Linked DNA regions of Homo sapiens: region 1 is linked to region 2. The links come from fine-mapping of genetic effects on gene expression. Tissue or cell type: whole blood. Region 2 holds a variant in brackets; the other region holds the start of a gene. All regions are shown on one strand. Distances are between the middles of the regions.

The links. PIP is the estimated chance that this variant, and not a neighbour inherited with it, causes the effect.
Region 1: it holds the start of CORO1C, and the variant in region 2 is fine-mapped to the expression of CORO1C in whole blood (INTERVAL, PIP above 0.99).

The regions. Positions count from the first base shown.
Region 1 is chr12:108,727,745-108,735,830 of GRCh38, forward strand. CORO1C (coronin 1C) reads right to left here and starts at 3,774. Exons shown (of 11, transcript NM_014325.4): 1 at 3,685-3,774. LOC105369969 (a long non-coding RNA gene) reads left to right here and starts at 5,665. Exons shown (of 3, transcript XR_945328.4): 1 at 5,665-5,708. RefSeq lists silencers at 3,053-3,332, 3,523-4,032 and enhancers at 3,645-4,448, 6,857-7,358.
Region 2 is chr12:108,672,423-108,680,525 of GRCh38, forward strand. CORO1C (coronin 1C) reads right to left here. Exons shown (of 11, transcript NM_014325.4): 3 at 5,850-5,972. Among named protein-coding and RNA genes, the nearest start is that of MIR4496, 41 kb to the left of the region's middle. The variant C/G (reference allele first, on the strand shown) is at 4,696.

The DNA.
Region 1 (8,086 bases), 55 kb after region 2:
GAAATCATCAAAATTTAAAATCTTTGTTCCTAAAAAGGGGCACCATCAAGAAAATGAAAGGACATGTCAGAATCCAAGAAAATTTTTGCAAATCATACAGCTGATAAGGCACTTGAATCTAGAATACATGAACAACTTTTATAACACCAATAAAAAGACAACCCATTAAAAAACGGGCAGAGCATTTGAATGGACATTTCTCCAAAGATTACACATACAAATGTTCACCAACCACATGAAAAGATGCTCAACATCATTAGCCATTAGGGAAACACAGATGACTAGAATCAAAAAGTCAGAGAGTAACAAGTGTTGGCAAGAATGTGGAGAATTTAGAACCTTCATATACTCTTGGTGAATACCGTAAAATGGTGCAGCTGCTTTGGAGAAGTCTGGCCATTCCTCCAATAGTTAAATATAGAGTTACCATACAACCCATCGATTACATTCCTAGGTAAATACTCAGGAGAAATGAAAACGTATGTTCACAGCATTATTCATAATAGCCAAAAAGGAAAAACACCCAAATGTTCATCAACTGATGAATGGATAAACAAAATACGGCATATCCAAACAATGGAATATTATTTGACCATTAAAAAAAAAAAATGAAGTACTATACAATACTACCACACATATAAACCTTGAAAATATGCTAAATAAGGGCAAGACACAAAAGACCACATAGTGTATGATTCCATTTACATGAAACGGGAGGACTTCTAAGGGGTATGGGGTTTCTTTTTGGGGGGGATGAAAATGTTCTAAAATTGACTGTGGTGACAGCTGCACAACTCTGTGAATATACCAAAAACCACAGAACTGTACACTTTAAACGGGTGAACTGTACAGTATGTCTCAATGAAGCTGTTATAAAACAAAAAAAGTTCCATTCTGCACTCTAGAAATACAAAGTACTCAGAAAGGAGTACAGAATCTTGTTCACTCACTTTAAAGGATCTGAACTAGGGCAAAGAAAACCCAGAGAGATTCTATTACTTAACATTCTAGGTACTAGGTCATACTGAAATATTCATGAAGAATTCTGTTTTAATACAGAAAAGGTATCTTAAGTTTAAAAAGACATACAAGTGTCAGAAAAGAGTTTTCATAATTCAAGGAGACAGTAACACAGAGAAGTCATAAATGGAAAACAAGCTTAAGAGGTTTTATCACATGGATTTGTACCTTGAAAATGCAAGTAGCTCTCAAATTTATTATTGCCCCACCCCTGGAAAAGAGGTCAAAGGTAAAACAGACCAATTAATAATATGTTTCTAAAGTACCAGTTTGTGACAAATCAAAATATGAGAAATTAAAATTTTGCCATCATAAAGAAGAGACTCGTCGACATACCCACTTATATAACTAAGAATTGATATTCATCCTTTTGAACATTCCATCTCATAGTCGTTAGAGTGACTCTCTTCCTCATGGTTGGAGTGGATCCCAGAAGTGACAGATAAGTTAAACATAAAACTTTTATCAAAAAATCCAACGGTGTTTAAAAAAATGCTATTCACTGACACCGAATCTAATCCTAAACTATATATAAATAAGTATAAATGCTGATTAGCACAATCTGCAGGCAAAGTAACAAAGGATCATGAAAAAGTCAATATTGTGTGCAGTTATGTTTCATCGGTATGTATCTATTAAAATTCATCAGGCTTTAATGTACCTTCCACAAGTAATCAAAATAAATATGGACAAGATAGGTTCTATATTTGTCAAAAATGTGTGCTCCTGACGTTTATACCAAATCTTTGTCCAATCCTCAGTACACACGACTAACCTCCACCACGAAACACTGCACTTCAAGACCTAAGGTACAACACAATTCTCAGTTTTATTTCACTTTTTTCCCTACTTATTTATGCGATTTCTCAGATCCAATGTTTACTATTATGCTTCATAGCCAAACATTATGACTGTGAAACATACCTCCAAACCAAAAATACTAGTTTCCTTAAATCATCTGAAATGTATAGAACCAAGTCCAAAATAGATTTTGCACATTTCTTCAGTTTTACAGGGAATGCAGAAAGTGAATTAATATTAAACAGGTATCTATTTGCCTTCACAACTGAACAGACGGTACAAAGCAACTGCTTATACTTAATCATGTTTCTGTCTATTCCAGCAGGCCCTGGTGTCAGGAGAACGTTCTGCCAGATAAGGACAATGAGATGCATTATTATATAGAGTGACTAAGAGCCCTACAAGTACTGTTTTAGAATGTAATCCCAGGCAGAAAGGCTGCGGTAAGAGGGCCTAATATTTTGTGGTAACTATTTCCAAAAGTAAATATATTCGCCACCCAGGACCAGTTTATTAAACGCGCACTACATTCAATTCTTTTCAAATGTCTTATAGGAGGGAAAAGCCTTTGTATCTTACCATGCCGGGGGAAATGAACAACTTGCAATTTGCTTCGCACTCTGAATCCCACGTTTGCAACATGTAGAGCAAGCACTTTAGACACCACAAAACAAGGGCAGCCTACATTACGGCCAAATATAGGATGTGTTTCTAAATCGTGATGCAGTAAAGCCTACGATTCCTTTTCCAGCGTTCAAAATCCTTTGAACACTCCCAAAAAAGGATGCCAGGGCCAGCGCCTCCCTCCAAGAGGAAGCCCCTTTCTTCTCAGCTCTCACCGCAGCCTGCCACTTCCCCCAACACATTCAAATCATTTGAGAGACGGAGAGCTGGGGAGCGTGCGCCGGTGGGGACAGGCGGGAGAGCTCGGTTTCTGCATTCCCACCCTCCACGTCTGACCTCATCCTCAGTCATTTCGGCGCAGCGGGGCCCCACCTGCACCTCGCTCCTTTTTACTGCGTCCCTCGCCAGCTGCCCCGCTATTAGGGAAACACACCTCTGAATCACCCAGTTCACTCGGACACCCTGGGCCCCCGATCCGACAGCCTTCCTGCTTCGTTCCTCCCCTCCCAACCCCCAGCCAGTCCCAGCCCTCTGCTCCCTTGGCCGGGCTCAGCCTCTTCCCAAGCCGCCCCCACCCACATTACTCCAGCTCCAGCTCTGCCCCGCCCCGCCTGACCCCCAACCGAGATCTGCAGGGCCCAGAGCTGGTCTCGCACCCAAAGCCAGGAAACCCGCAGGCCAGGCGGCCGCCCTCGCCCCTCCCGACGCAGGGCCCAGCTCGCCCCGGCCCCACGTGAGCCCGGCCCCTACCCGCCCCCACCCACTCGTTCCCTGGGGCGGCCCAAACCCAGTCCCCAGGCCTGGAGCCCCCGGGCTCTACGCCTCGCCCGAAGCAGCCCTTCCCTCCCAGCACCTCGCCCAAGCAGGCGATCCCTGACCCCTAAAAGCCTTCCCTGGGCAGCCTCGTCCCACCTCGGCCCGCGGCTCCGCACCCGGCCAGGAGCGTTCCGGACCTCGAAAGCCTCCTCCCCACAGGGACCCTGCTTCACGCTCCCCACGCCACCTGGTTCGGTCCCCAACTCCCTTTCCCCGAGCCCCCGACAGCAGCCCCCGGCCCTAACCCCTTGCAACCCAGCCCGTGAACCCGCGCCCCGCGCGCCCACCCAGCACTGTCCCCTCCACCTAGCCCTGCCCCTCGCCCCGCCGGCTCCTGTCAGGCGGCGCAGGCACATGCTCAGAGGACAGGTCCGCCCGCCCGACTCGCTCTCAGGCTGCCCCCGCCGGGCGCGAGCCGCTCACCCGGGCCGAGGTGCCTGAGGCGCCGCCGCCGAAGTCCCCGCTGCAAAGCCGGGCGAAGCCTCCAACCGCTGCCGCCTCCAGCCTGGCACTGAGCGCCGTGCGGGGGAGGGGCGCGGGCAGCCGCCACCGCCCCCGCCACCGCGCGTAGGCCCCGCCCCCGCGCCGCGCGGGACCCAACCAGGGCTGCCGGGCCGCTGTGCGCCACGCCCACTTCCGGAGGGGAAGCCCGCTTCCCACCCCACGTTCCACGCCTCGCTACGCCCCCTCTGGTCGCACCGAGGGATGCAGGCGGTGCCCAAGCGCACGCCCCGCTCTCCAGTCATCTGAGTGGTAGAGGGCCACGCCCACAGGCGCCTCCGAGCAACGCCCACTGCTCCTTAGACCCCGGAGCGGGGTTCTTAGAGCCCCGCCCACTGACCCGCTAGGCTCTGCAAGGCCACGTCCCCTGGCTCCTCAAAGATTCCCCCAGAGCCCCTCAATACAGGAACATTAGCTCCTCTGAGCCCCGCGCACTGCCTATCCGAGTCCTTAAACCAGCCTCCTGCTTCCCTAAGCCCGGCTCCCCTCCCACTGCTTCAGAACTCGCCCAGCGGCCTCACAAAGCCCCGCCCCGTCTTCCAGAAGCCCCGCCCAAGGACCGCAACCCTATTCCTAGCATCTCAAGCCCCGCCCACTACCCCATCTCAACGTTTAAACCCCAAGCCCCGCCCCGAATTCGCGAATCCACGCCTCTGGCTCCCGAGGCTCCGCCCTGGCTCCGTCACACCCTACCACCACCTCCCTTGAGGACTGCCGACGTTCCAGCCCTCCCTGAACCGTCCATTGTCACATTCCTAGTGCAGAGTGGCCGCCCCTGGGCTGGGCCACACCCACGTAACCCCAAAGAGGGCCCGTGATTGACCCCATTTCGCAGGTGAGGGAATGGAAACTTCAGGGTTCCTCCCTTCCTTTCCCTGGCCAGAGTCCCTTAATAACTCGGCGGCCCAGGCCTGAAAGTCGGAGCACGGGAATTTGAGCCTCAGCTCTGCGGCCGTCAGACTGTGTGACCTGGGACAGTTCTCTTACCTCTTTGGGCCTGAGTCCCCTAATCTTCAGCATGAAGAAGTTGTCCTGTTAATAGCTAAAGTCCCTTTCTGAAACACCAAGCTCTGAAATACCGAGATTTGAGGAAACAGAGCCTGGGGAACCGAACCGACTGTGGGGTAGGGCTATTTACTTCCCAAAGCAAGGCATCTTTGCCATTCACAGGGGGATTTTTTATTTTAAGCGTCAGCCTCAGAAACGTGTGTTATTTAAATCAAGCTTGACCTGAACTAAGACAGCTATCACAGCAAATTATTTATCCTCTCTAAGGGTCAGTTTCTTTATCTGTAAAATGGGGATAACAGCCCCTCCCTCACAGGGTTCCATGAGATCATATTAGCAGCCATGATCGTGGCATTACTTTTTGCCATTAAAAGGAATGGCAAAAACCGCGATTACTTTTGCACCAGGATAATAGTAATATACTTAGAAGAGTTCCTGGCTTGTGATAAACGCTCGACAGTACCTGTTGCTGCTACTGCTGGGACTCAACAAAATGAAAGGATGGGTTTTATTTTGCCTTCAAGCAGCCACTCCTAATAGGAGGAATTCAGCACCCTTCCTGCAGTAAGATTTGCCACTCACTTTATTTAAATGAGATAAACGTGATGAAACGCCTACTGCAGTGCCTGCCATATGGTGAGGCTCAAAAACAATTCACTTGTTTTTGTTTGTTTGAGACACAGTCTTGCTCTGTCGCTCAGGCTGGAGTGCAGTGGGGCAGTCCACGGCTCACTGCAGCATGGACCTCCCGGGCTCAAGTAATCCTCCCACCTCAGCCTCCCACGTAGCTGAGACTACAGGCACGCGCCACCATGCCCAGCTAAATTCTTAACATTTTTCTGTAGAGATGAAGTCCTGCTATGTTGCCCAGGCTGGCCTCAAACTCCTGAGCTCAAGAGATCCTCCCACCTCGGCCTCCCAAAGTGTTGGGATTACAGGTATGAGCCACTGTGCCCACAATTCAATAGTTTTGAACAATAAAAGTTGTTTTTTTAAAATCCACTAGTTAATAAATTAAACAGGGGCATTGATAGCAGTGAGTTCTGAGTGCTTTGGGGAAAATGAAGATTGGTAAAGTGCTTTGAGTTCCTTTTTTTTTGAGACGGAGTCTTGCTCTGTCGCCCAGGCTGGAGTACAGTGGCGCGATCTCAGCTCACTGCAAGCTCCGCCTCCCAGGTTCACGCCATTCTCCTGCCTCAGCCTCCCGAGTAGCTGGGACTACAGGCACCCGCCACCACGCCCGGCTTATTTTTTGTATTTTTAGTAGAGACGGGGTTTCACCATGTTAGCCAGGATGGTCTCGATCTCCTGACCTTGTAATCCACCCGCCTCGGCCTCCCAAAGTGCTGGGATTACAGGCGTGAGCCACCGCGTCCGGCCGAGTTCCAACTGGAAACCACGGAGTAAGCTAGCTTATTCTTTGGAAACAGATTATTGCTAACATTTATCCATCACTTAGACATGCTAGGCACTATCTGAGTGCTTTACATGCAGAATCTTCTGAAATTGCTCAACAATCCTATGGCCACAGAAATAATTCTTTTTTTTTTTTCTTTTTGAGACGGGGTCTCACTCTTTTGCCCAGGCTGGAGAGCAGTGGCTCCATCTGGCTCACTGCAGCCTCGAACTACCAGGCTCAAGCAATCCTTCCACCTCAGCCTTCCAAGCAGCTAAAACTGCAGGTGCACACCACTTTGCTCACTAATATTTTTACTTTTTGTACAGATGGGGTCTTGTTTTGTTGCCCAGGCTAGTCTCAAATTCCTGGCCTCCCAAAGGTGTTGAAATTACAAGCATGAGCCACCACACCCAGCCCAGAAGGGACTCCTAATCCCCACCTATAAAGGTGAGGAAACTGAAGACTCAGAGAAGTTAAATTCCTTGTCCAAGTCACATGGCTTGAACCACGTAGAACCCACATCCATCTAAATGCAGAGCCTGCACCCTTAGCCAGTTAGTCATTACACTAAACTGCCTCTGTGGCAGCATGACAGAACAGAAAAACCGTGGACTTTGGATTCTGGCCGGTTTAGGTTTAAATTCAGGCTCCACCTATTACTCATTGTGTGACGTTCAGCAAGTCACTTCCCCTCTGAGCTGAGCCCTATTCTTCTGCCTATATATCACTGGGAATCATGTAAATGCTTCAGGAAGTGGTTTTGAATATTCAGGAGTTTAGATTCAATGAATTAGGACGTGGCAAAGCACCCAACACAGTGCCCAGCACAAAATAGTTGTTTTAAAACATGTTGATGTTTAAAAATCACAGGGTTCCGGCCAGGAGTGGTGGCTCACACCTGTAATCCCAGCACTTGGGAGGCTGAGGCAGGCGGATTGTTTGAGGTCAGGAGTTCGAGACCAGCCTGGGCAATATGATGAAACCCCGTCTCTACTAAAAATACAAAAATTAGCCAGGCATGGTGGCACGCGTCTGTAATCCCAGCTACTTGGGAGGCTGAGGCAGAAGAATTGCTTGAACTCGAGTTTGGAGGTGGAGGTTGCAGTAAGCCTAGATAGCGCCACTGCACTCCAGCCTGGGCGAGAGTGAGACTCTGAAAAAAAAAATAGAAATAAATAAAAATAAAAAAATCTTGGGGTTCCATGAGATCATAGATAAATGATGAAGTTAGAAGTGATGAAATGATAATGATGAAATTAGAAGAATTCCCCCCGCCAGATGATACCGCCAAAAAGCAGCCATGGAATATGCTACGAAAGATCCCAAGGCCTTCATCTTCTGACTGCCTCTTTCAGTTCCTGGTTTGAGCCCTGCATTTGAGGAGGTGATTCTTGCACAGGAAGCACCCAATGCCAGAAGCAATGCCACCTCACTTTCACTCCATGCCTATCCCAAATGTGGTCAGCTGAGAGCTGCTTACTTCCAGAAACAGGAAAACTGCATAACTCTGCTGGGAGAAAGCCCCATCATCTCATTGTTCTTGAACCTACAGCAATTGCTTTGTGGGCCTGAAAGAAACCTTGGCTCTGTCCAAGCTGGCCCTAAAGGGAGGGATCCAAGTCCAGGTGAGATGCTGGATTTAAGAGTTTTTTCCTGCTCTCAAAAGCTGGTGATTTCTAAAGTGGCTTAAGACAGGTGCTAGATGGAGAGGAATTTAATGATCAGGAAAAATAAAAATGATTCCAGACCACACATGATATAGATGCCAGCTTATGTATGAAGTGGAAAGAACTGTGGGCCCAGCATCCAGAGGCTCCTTAGCAAATCATTTTTCTATTTTTTCTGAGTACCAAATGGGGACATTTGTTTTAGGTTGCTAGGGCAACCTAGAAGCTCAGTGAATTACCCTGTGGAAGC
Region 2 (8,103 bases):
CATGGTATGGTGGTGGTATTAGTATTTTCACTCTGAGACTATTACATGTATAACGTGAAAAGACAAATGAGATAGATCAGGATGTTCTAATTCTTCTTCTGTATCCCTAAGACCCTGCATTCTCTGTGTGAAAGAAAGGAGATGGAGATGTAATTAATATTAAAGAGGTTAGGTAAATACAGGCATACCTCATTTTATTGCACTTCACAGATATTGTGGTGGTGTTTTTGTTTTGTTTTTTTTTTTAAACAAATTGAAGCTTTTTATCAACCCTAAGGCAAGTCTATCTGCACCATTTTTCCAACAGCGTATGTTCACTGTCTCTGTGTCACATTTTGGCAATTCTTGCAGGATTTCAAACTTTTTTGTTATTACTGTATCTGTTACAGTGATCAGTAATGTCTGATGTTACTACTGTAATTGTTTCGGGGCACTATGAACTGCACTCATATAAGACAGTGAACTTCATCGATAAACGCTGTGTGTTTTCTCATTGCTCCACCACCTGCTCTTCCTGTATTCCTGTCTCTTCCTCTCCTTGGGCCTCCCTATTATCTGAGACATAACAACATTGAAATTAGGCCAATTAATAACCCTAAATGACCTTTAAGTGTTTGGGTGAAAGGAAGAGTTGCACATTTCTCACTTTAAATAAAAAATTAGAAATGATTAAGCTTAGTGAGGAAGCCATGTTGAAAGCTGAAACAGGCCAAAAGCTAAGCGCCTCTTAAGCCAGTTAGCCAAGTTGTGAATGCAAAAGAAAAGTTCAGGAAATTAAAAGTGCTACTCCAGTGAACACATGAATGATAAAAAAGCAAAAACAGCCTTGTTTTAGTGGTCTGGATAGAAATACAAACCAGCCACAAGATTCCCTTAAGCCAAAGCCTAATCCAGAGCAAAGTCCTAACTCTCTTCAATTCCATGGAGGCTGACAGAGGTGAAGAAGCTGCAGAAGAAAAGTTGGAAACTAGCAGAGGTTAGTTCATGAGGTTAACGAAAGACGCCATCTCCATTATATAAAAGTACAAGGGAAAGCAGCAAGTGCTGATGGAGAAGCTGCAGCAAGTTATCCGGAAGGTCTGGATAAGATCATTGATGAAGGTGGCTACACTAAACAACACATTTTCAGTGTAGATGAAACAGCCTTTTACTGAAAGAAGATGCCATCTAGAACTTTCATGGCTAGAGAGGAGAAGTCAATGCCTGGCTTCAAAGCTTCAAAAGATGAGCTGCCTGTCTTGTTAGAGGCTCACGCAGCTGGTGACTTTAAGTTGACGCCAATGCTCATTTACCGCACCAAAAATCCTAGGGCCCTTAAGAATTATGCTAAATCATTAGGAGATATACCTAATGCTAAATGATGAGTTAATGGGTGCAGCACACCAGCATGGCACATGTATACATATGTAACTAACCTGCACATTGTGCACATGTACCCTAAAACTTAAAGTATAATAATAATAAAATAAAAAATAAATAAATAAATAATTATGCTAAATCTACTCTATGTTCTAGAAATGGAAAAACAAAGCATGAATGACAGCACATCTGTTTACTGCATGGTTTACTGAATATTTTAAGCCCACCATTGAGAACCACCGATCAGGAAAAAAAAAGATTCCTTACAAAATATTACTGCTCACCAACAATGCACCTTATCACCCAAGACCTCTGATGAAAATGTACAAGGAGATTAACGTTGTTTTCACCTGCTAACATCAATTCTGCAGCCCTTGGAACAAGGAATCATTTTGACTTTCAAATCTTATTATTTAAGAAATACATTTCATAAGGCTACAGCTACCACTGATAGTGATTCCCCTGATGGATCTGGGCAAAGTGAATTAAAAACCTTCTGGGCTGGGCACGGTGGCTCACACCTTTGGGAGGCCAAGGCGGGCGGATCGCGAGATCAGGAGATGGAGACCATCCTGGCTAACATGGTGAAACTCCATCTCTATTAAAAATACAAAAAATTAGCCGGGCATGGTGGCACATGACTGTAGTCCCAGCTACTCGGAGGGCTGAGGCAGGAGAATCGCTTGAACCCAGGAGGCGGAGGTTGCAGTGAGCCGAGATCGTACCACTGCGCTCCAGCCTGGGCGACAGAGCGAGACTCCGTCTCAATTTAAAAAAAAAAAAAAAAAAAACCTTCTGGAAAGGATTCACCATTTTAGGTGACATTAAGAAAATTCATGATTCGTGGAAGGAGTTCTAAATATCAACATTTGAGGAGTTCAAGACTTTGGTGGAAGAAGTAACTGTAGATATGGTGGAAATAGAGAACTAGAGAATAAAAAGTGGAGCCTCAAGATGTGAGTGAATTGCTGCAATCTCATGATAAAACTTGAACAGATGAGGAGTTGTTCCTTATGGATAAGCAAAGAAAATGGTCTCTTGAGATGGAATGTACTCCTGGTAACGACGCTGTGAACACTGTTGAAATGACAACAAAACATTTAGAATATTACTTACATAAACTTAGTTGATAAGGCAGCAAAAGGGTTTGAGAGGACTGACTCCAATTTTGAAAGAAGTTCTATGGCAGGTAAAATGCTATCAAACAGCATCACATGCTACAGAGAAAGCTTTTGTGAGAGGCCAAGTCAATCAGTATGACAAACTTTATTGTCGTGGTCTCATCCAGCCCAACCTTCAGCAACCACCACCCTCATCAGTCAGCAGCCATCAACACTGAGGGGAAACCCTCCACAGCAAAAAGATTACACTCTCTTTGGTAATACAGTATTTTTAAATGTATATATATATATACATAATGCTACTGCATACTTAATAGATATAATTTTCCCTTAAAATAAACCAGGACTTCCGAAAGAAATGGCTTGGGCAGGGATGTCCAAAGTGAGCCTGAAACACCTCAACATATCACATAGCAAGGAATCTATCTATCAAAGACTCAAAGACTATGATGGTCATTTCAAAAGGACTCAGAAATCTTGAAGAGGTTTCAATGGGAAAAGGCGAGAAAGTCGGCTTTGAGATAAGAATTATAATGGATTGAACCCATCAAATATGTTCAAATCCATGACTTCAAAATGAAAGGAACGGGGAAAAAAAAACCCTAATTTGTCACCTTCTGAGGATGACAGAGAATCAATTCATTATCTTGAGAACTAGGTAAATAAAAGGAAAGAATCAAGCACTTATCCTGCTTTCCTAAATGAACTATACTATTTGGTAACTAAATAGTAAGTAAGTGAGGACATTATCTTATAAAATTTTACCAGCTAAAAATTGAAAACAAAATGACAGAATTTACTGTCACCATATTGCAACCCCTAGTGAATGACTGGATATAGGCACAGAATACACAAATGGAAAAAGGATGAAACCCAGACACTGTGACATCATGTGCTTCCTAGCGTATGGAAGAACATAATGCGAACAATATAGTCTAGCCAAAAGGACAGAACCTGAATCTGACCGCACTTCAGGTTCCAGCTGCCAATTTGCAGGAAATTCAGAGGACAGAGGAGCAAGCTGAACTGCAACATGAGGGTACAATCAGCAAAATCCAGATGGTTGAAAAGCACAGGTCAAAGGTCAGGGCTTCCGAATAGATAAATTGTAGGGAAAAGAAAATGATGAAGGAGGAATCTTTAGATTAAGACTTAAAAGACTACATATCAAGTTTTTAAAACTGGCAAGACCAATCTAGAGTCTAGAGGTATACACCTGAGTGATTACCACTACAAAGAAAGGCAAGGAAATGAGTATTACAAAAGTCAGGAGAGTGGTTACTTTGAGAGGGAGGAGGGATGTTGTGACTGGGATGGGGCACATGGAGAAGTCTGAGGAGGTTGGGAAAGTTCTACTTTTTGACATGGAAGGTGGTTTCATGGTGTTCGCTATGTCATAAATCACTTAACTCCCTGAGTCTGCTTTTTCACTTAACTATTTGGTGTGTTTTTCTGTTTTATAATACACACTATTTTTTTTAAAAGGATAACGTGACCAGTAATGCTAGAGACAGGGAGAGCCAGAGATGGATCAAACCTGCTTCTTCAAAAGAGGTTCAGACTCTCCGTTTAAGATTCTGGCATCAGAGTTAGGCGCAGTGGCTCGTGCCTGTAATCCCAGCACTTTGGGAGGCTGAGGCGGGGGGATCACTTGAGGTCAGGAGTTCGAGACCAGCCTGGCCAACATGATGAAACTCCGTTTCTACTAAAAACATAAAAATTAGCCAGGCATGGTGGCGCAGGGCTGTAATCCCAGCTACTCGGGAGGCTGAGGCAGGAGAATCACTTGAACCTGGGAGGTAGAGGTTGCAGTGAGCTGAGATCACGCCATTATACTCCAACCTGGGTGACAAAGTGAGACTCCATCCCAAAAAAAAAAAAAAAAATTCTGGCATCAGGTCTAAACGATATTCCTTTCTCTTAACAAAATGCGTCCATAGCCATTAAAATGATCAATTTAGCAAGGCACATTAAACAGAACAATTCCCTTTCACAGCAGCGTATTTCCTTAATATGCTTTAGCTGCCAAAATTATGAGATCACAGGAGGAGACATTCCCAGCCAAAAGCCCATGAGGAAAAGCGGGTAAATGTTTAAATGACACAGTTCAGGAATTAATTTGTATTTATGTAAAATAATTTTAATTAATAAAGCTTTCCAAACAATGTTTCAGTCCACAGCCAATAGAGAGGAAAATAAAAGTAGCATGGTTCTC[C/G]AATGCTGACACGTGCGAGACTACCTGACATGTGCGAGACTGCTTACAAATTAATTAGAGACCATCTTCCCTTATTTCAGGGGCAGCAAGTACTCCCATTTGTGTTTATGCCTAACCTTTTCAGCCTACTTTGGGCTAGCATTAAAAACTGATCCAAACCAATAATCACATTTTAAAGTTAAAAATCATAACTAAGGACAAGAAATCATATTAAAAAGTATTCCAAAGCCTTGTTTCACACATAACCTACTTTTGGAAACTAAAGGAGGGAATGTAAAGTACTTAATTCACCTTTCACGTTTTTTGTTTGTATATCTTTATGAAAAGGACTTTCTTAACCAGGGTCCACTGGACAGAACACAGTTCTGCCATTAGCTTGGAAACAAGCAATTGCAAAAACTCTTTTACCACCTGTGACATATCCCATTTTATCTGCATAACTTTGGCATCTTACGTCACTGTCTTGTACAGTCTGTGCCAGCAGTTTCAGTTTTTTCTCTCCTTTTGGGGCGAGGGGAAATTCATGTGGTCAAATGGCATTACAGAATTACTGAAAAGTCACTTTACTTTCCCTAAAATCTTCCAACAGAGAACATGTCAACTGTCAATAAGCACATACACAAACACACTCACAGAAAAGACTGTAATCCCAGCACTTTGGGAGGCCGAGGCAGGCGGATCACTTGAGGTCAGGAGTTCGAGACCAGCCTGGCCAACATGGTGAAACCTCGTCTCTATTAAAAATACAAAAATTAGCCAGGTGTGGTAGCAGATGCCTGTAATCCCAATTACTCGGGAGGCTGAGGCAGGAGAATCACTTGAACCCGGGAGGCGGAGGTTACAGTGAGCCGAGATCATGCCACTGCACTCCAGCCTGGGTGACAGAGCAAGACTCCATCTCAAAAAAAAAAAAGAAAAAGAAAGACACGGCAGACACTGCAGTACAACCTTTTTGATTTAAGGGCTTCTTGAAAGGATTATCTGTAATTAAACTTAAACGTAGTAAATTATTGTAAAATCCAACAGACAGTCAAAACTGCTATAACGTTCTGCTTTTCAAGCCTCTATACATACACACACACCCACACACATGCTTTTGAAAGCAGTAGGTGAGTCTCACTGGCCTGTGTGCACACAACACCCTGGGAGCTTACCATGACCGTGCAGTCCTCTGAACCGCTGGCAATGACCTGATCGTTATGTGGGCACCAGTCTATGTCCAGCACTGGTCCTGTGTGGCCACATACTGTAGGGTAAGATTTGTCAATTCGACCAGTCTGAAAGAAGAGAGAAACAAACCTATTATGTAATATCAACACCACAGACGTTATACATTTTCTCAGGCCCATTTCTCATTTATTACCTCCACCCAAAACTCTCAATTTTCTAGATATGACATCGTATAGTCAATATCAACTTTCACTTCTAGAAAAAGCCACTACCAAGGACATGCGATCAAATTACAAGAATCCAAATCCCTAGAACCAAAAAGATGTAACCAACTGCACTAGCAGACATAGCAAAAGAGAATATGAAAGTCTTTTTGCCAAAATACAATTCTAAATAGCCAAATTGTAAATTAAAAGGATGTTCCATGGCTTAAAAAAAAAAAAAAAAAAACCCTAAACCTTGGTATTATTCAAAATGTTAATACAATAAGACAATATCCTCCAATATATAAATTACCAGTTCTGGAAATGAATGGCACTATTAAAATGTAAAGGCCGGGCGCGGTGGCTCACGCCTATAATCCCAGCACTTTGGGAGGCTGAGGCAGGTGGATCATGAGGTCAGGAGATCCTGGCCAACAAGGTGAAACCCCACCTCTACTAAAAATACAAAAATTAGCTGGTCGTGGTGGTGTGCGCCTGTAGTCCCAGCTACTTGGGAGGCTGAGGCAGGAGTATCGCTTGAACCCGGTAGGCAGAGGTTGCAGTGAGCCGAGATCGTGCCACTACACTCCAGCCTGGCGACAGAGAGAGACTCTGTCTCAAAAAAAAAAAAAAAAAAAAGAAACAAGAAAAAAGAAAAAAAAAAAGAAATTTAAAAAGTTAAAAAAAAAAAAAAAAGAAAAGCTTTAGCTATCATTAGGGCCTAAAGAGCCTACTACATTGTAATGTCTCAGTCTCTCTGCTATCCTCAATCAACAGAAATGCCAGCCAGACAATCTAGTTAACACCAACTTAGACCTCACCCATTAGCCAGTTCCACATCTGATTAAGAATAAAATGCTTAATGTTGGTCATAAATAGCTACCACAATTTGCTCATGTCACACATTTGAATCTAGCAAACCAACCAGGGTTATCAGACCAATTTTGTGTCAACTAAGACAACTGCTATTGTTAACAATGGGTATATGAAAGTGGTTTCCTTTTTAAAATAGCTTAATGCCAGTCCACGCTGAAGCTGTGTATGCTTTAAGAGCAGGTGCACAGAAAGGAACCACTGCAATGTATGGCTTAATCTATTTTTTGTTGTTTTTGCTCTTATATGGCAAATCATCCCAACACTGGAGCAGGCTTCTTAGCAATTTTTCAAGAACAGAAATTTCTATGATTTCTCCAATTTGACTTGACTGTGCAAATCTCCAGGAAAGCAGAACGTTAACGTGTAAAGACCACAGGCTCTGGAATAAGACAGGTAAGGGTTCAAATCCAGGCTCTACTGATTAAACAGGTGACTTTAGACAAGTCATGTAATCTCTCTAAGCTTCACCTCATTCGTCATCTGTAAAATAGTTAACAATGATACTTATTAACTCCCACAATTACCGTAAGGATTAAATGAGAGAACACTTTTAGATAAATCACAATTCAGTATTACAATTATCTGTAAAATAAGTAAAAAAATTAACCACAGTATCTGGAATAAAATATCCAATAAAAGCTGTCACATTATTAGTTCTTCTAGTACAATAATTTACTCCATCATTAAGAATTAACAAATATGTGTTGTGAACTTTTATGGACCAGACATTGTGCTGAGTGCTGGAGATACAGACGTGAACAAGGCAGTCCTGTCCTGGCTAAATGTGGAGCCCAGTGAGAGGAGAGAGACATTTAAACAGCCAATTATGGTGCCACATAGGAACAGAGAAGGAAGACATTCAAGCAGGTTTGTGGGGTCACAGTCTCTGGAGAGGTTTTCTTCTGGGAAAGGTAAGTTCTAAGTTGAGGCCTGAATATGGCCCTGTTTACAGACCTAAGGCCTAGGTTTCTTCACATTCCTCCACTTTCCCTTGCAACCCAGTTTGGATCTTCCAAAACGCATCACCAAAAAAGGACTTCAAAAAAGGAAATTCCAATGAACACCATATCATATAGAATCTGGGTGTCACAGGAAGGAGCCACACAGTTCATTTACAGGCAGCGAAGTATAAATGGTTGAGAACCAGACTGCCCAGAGT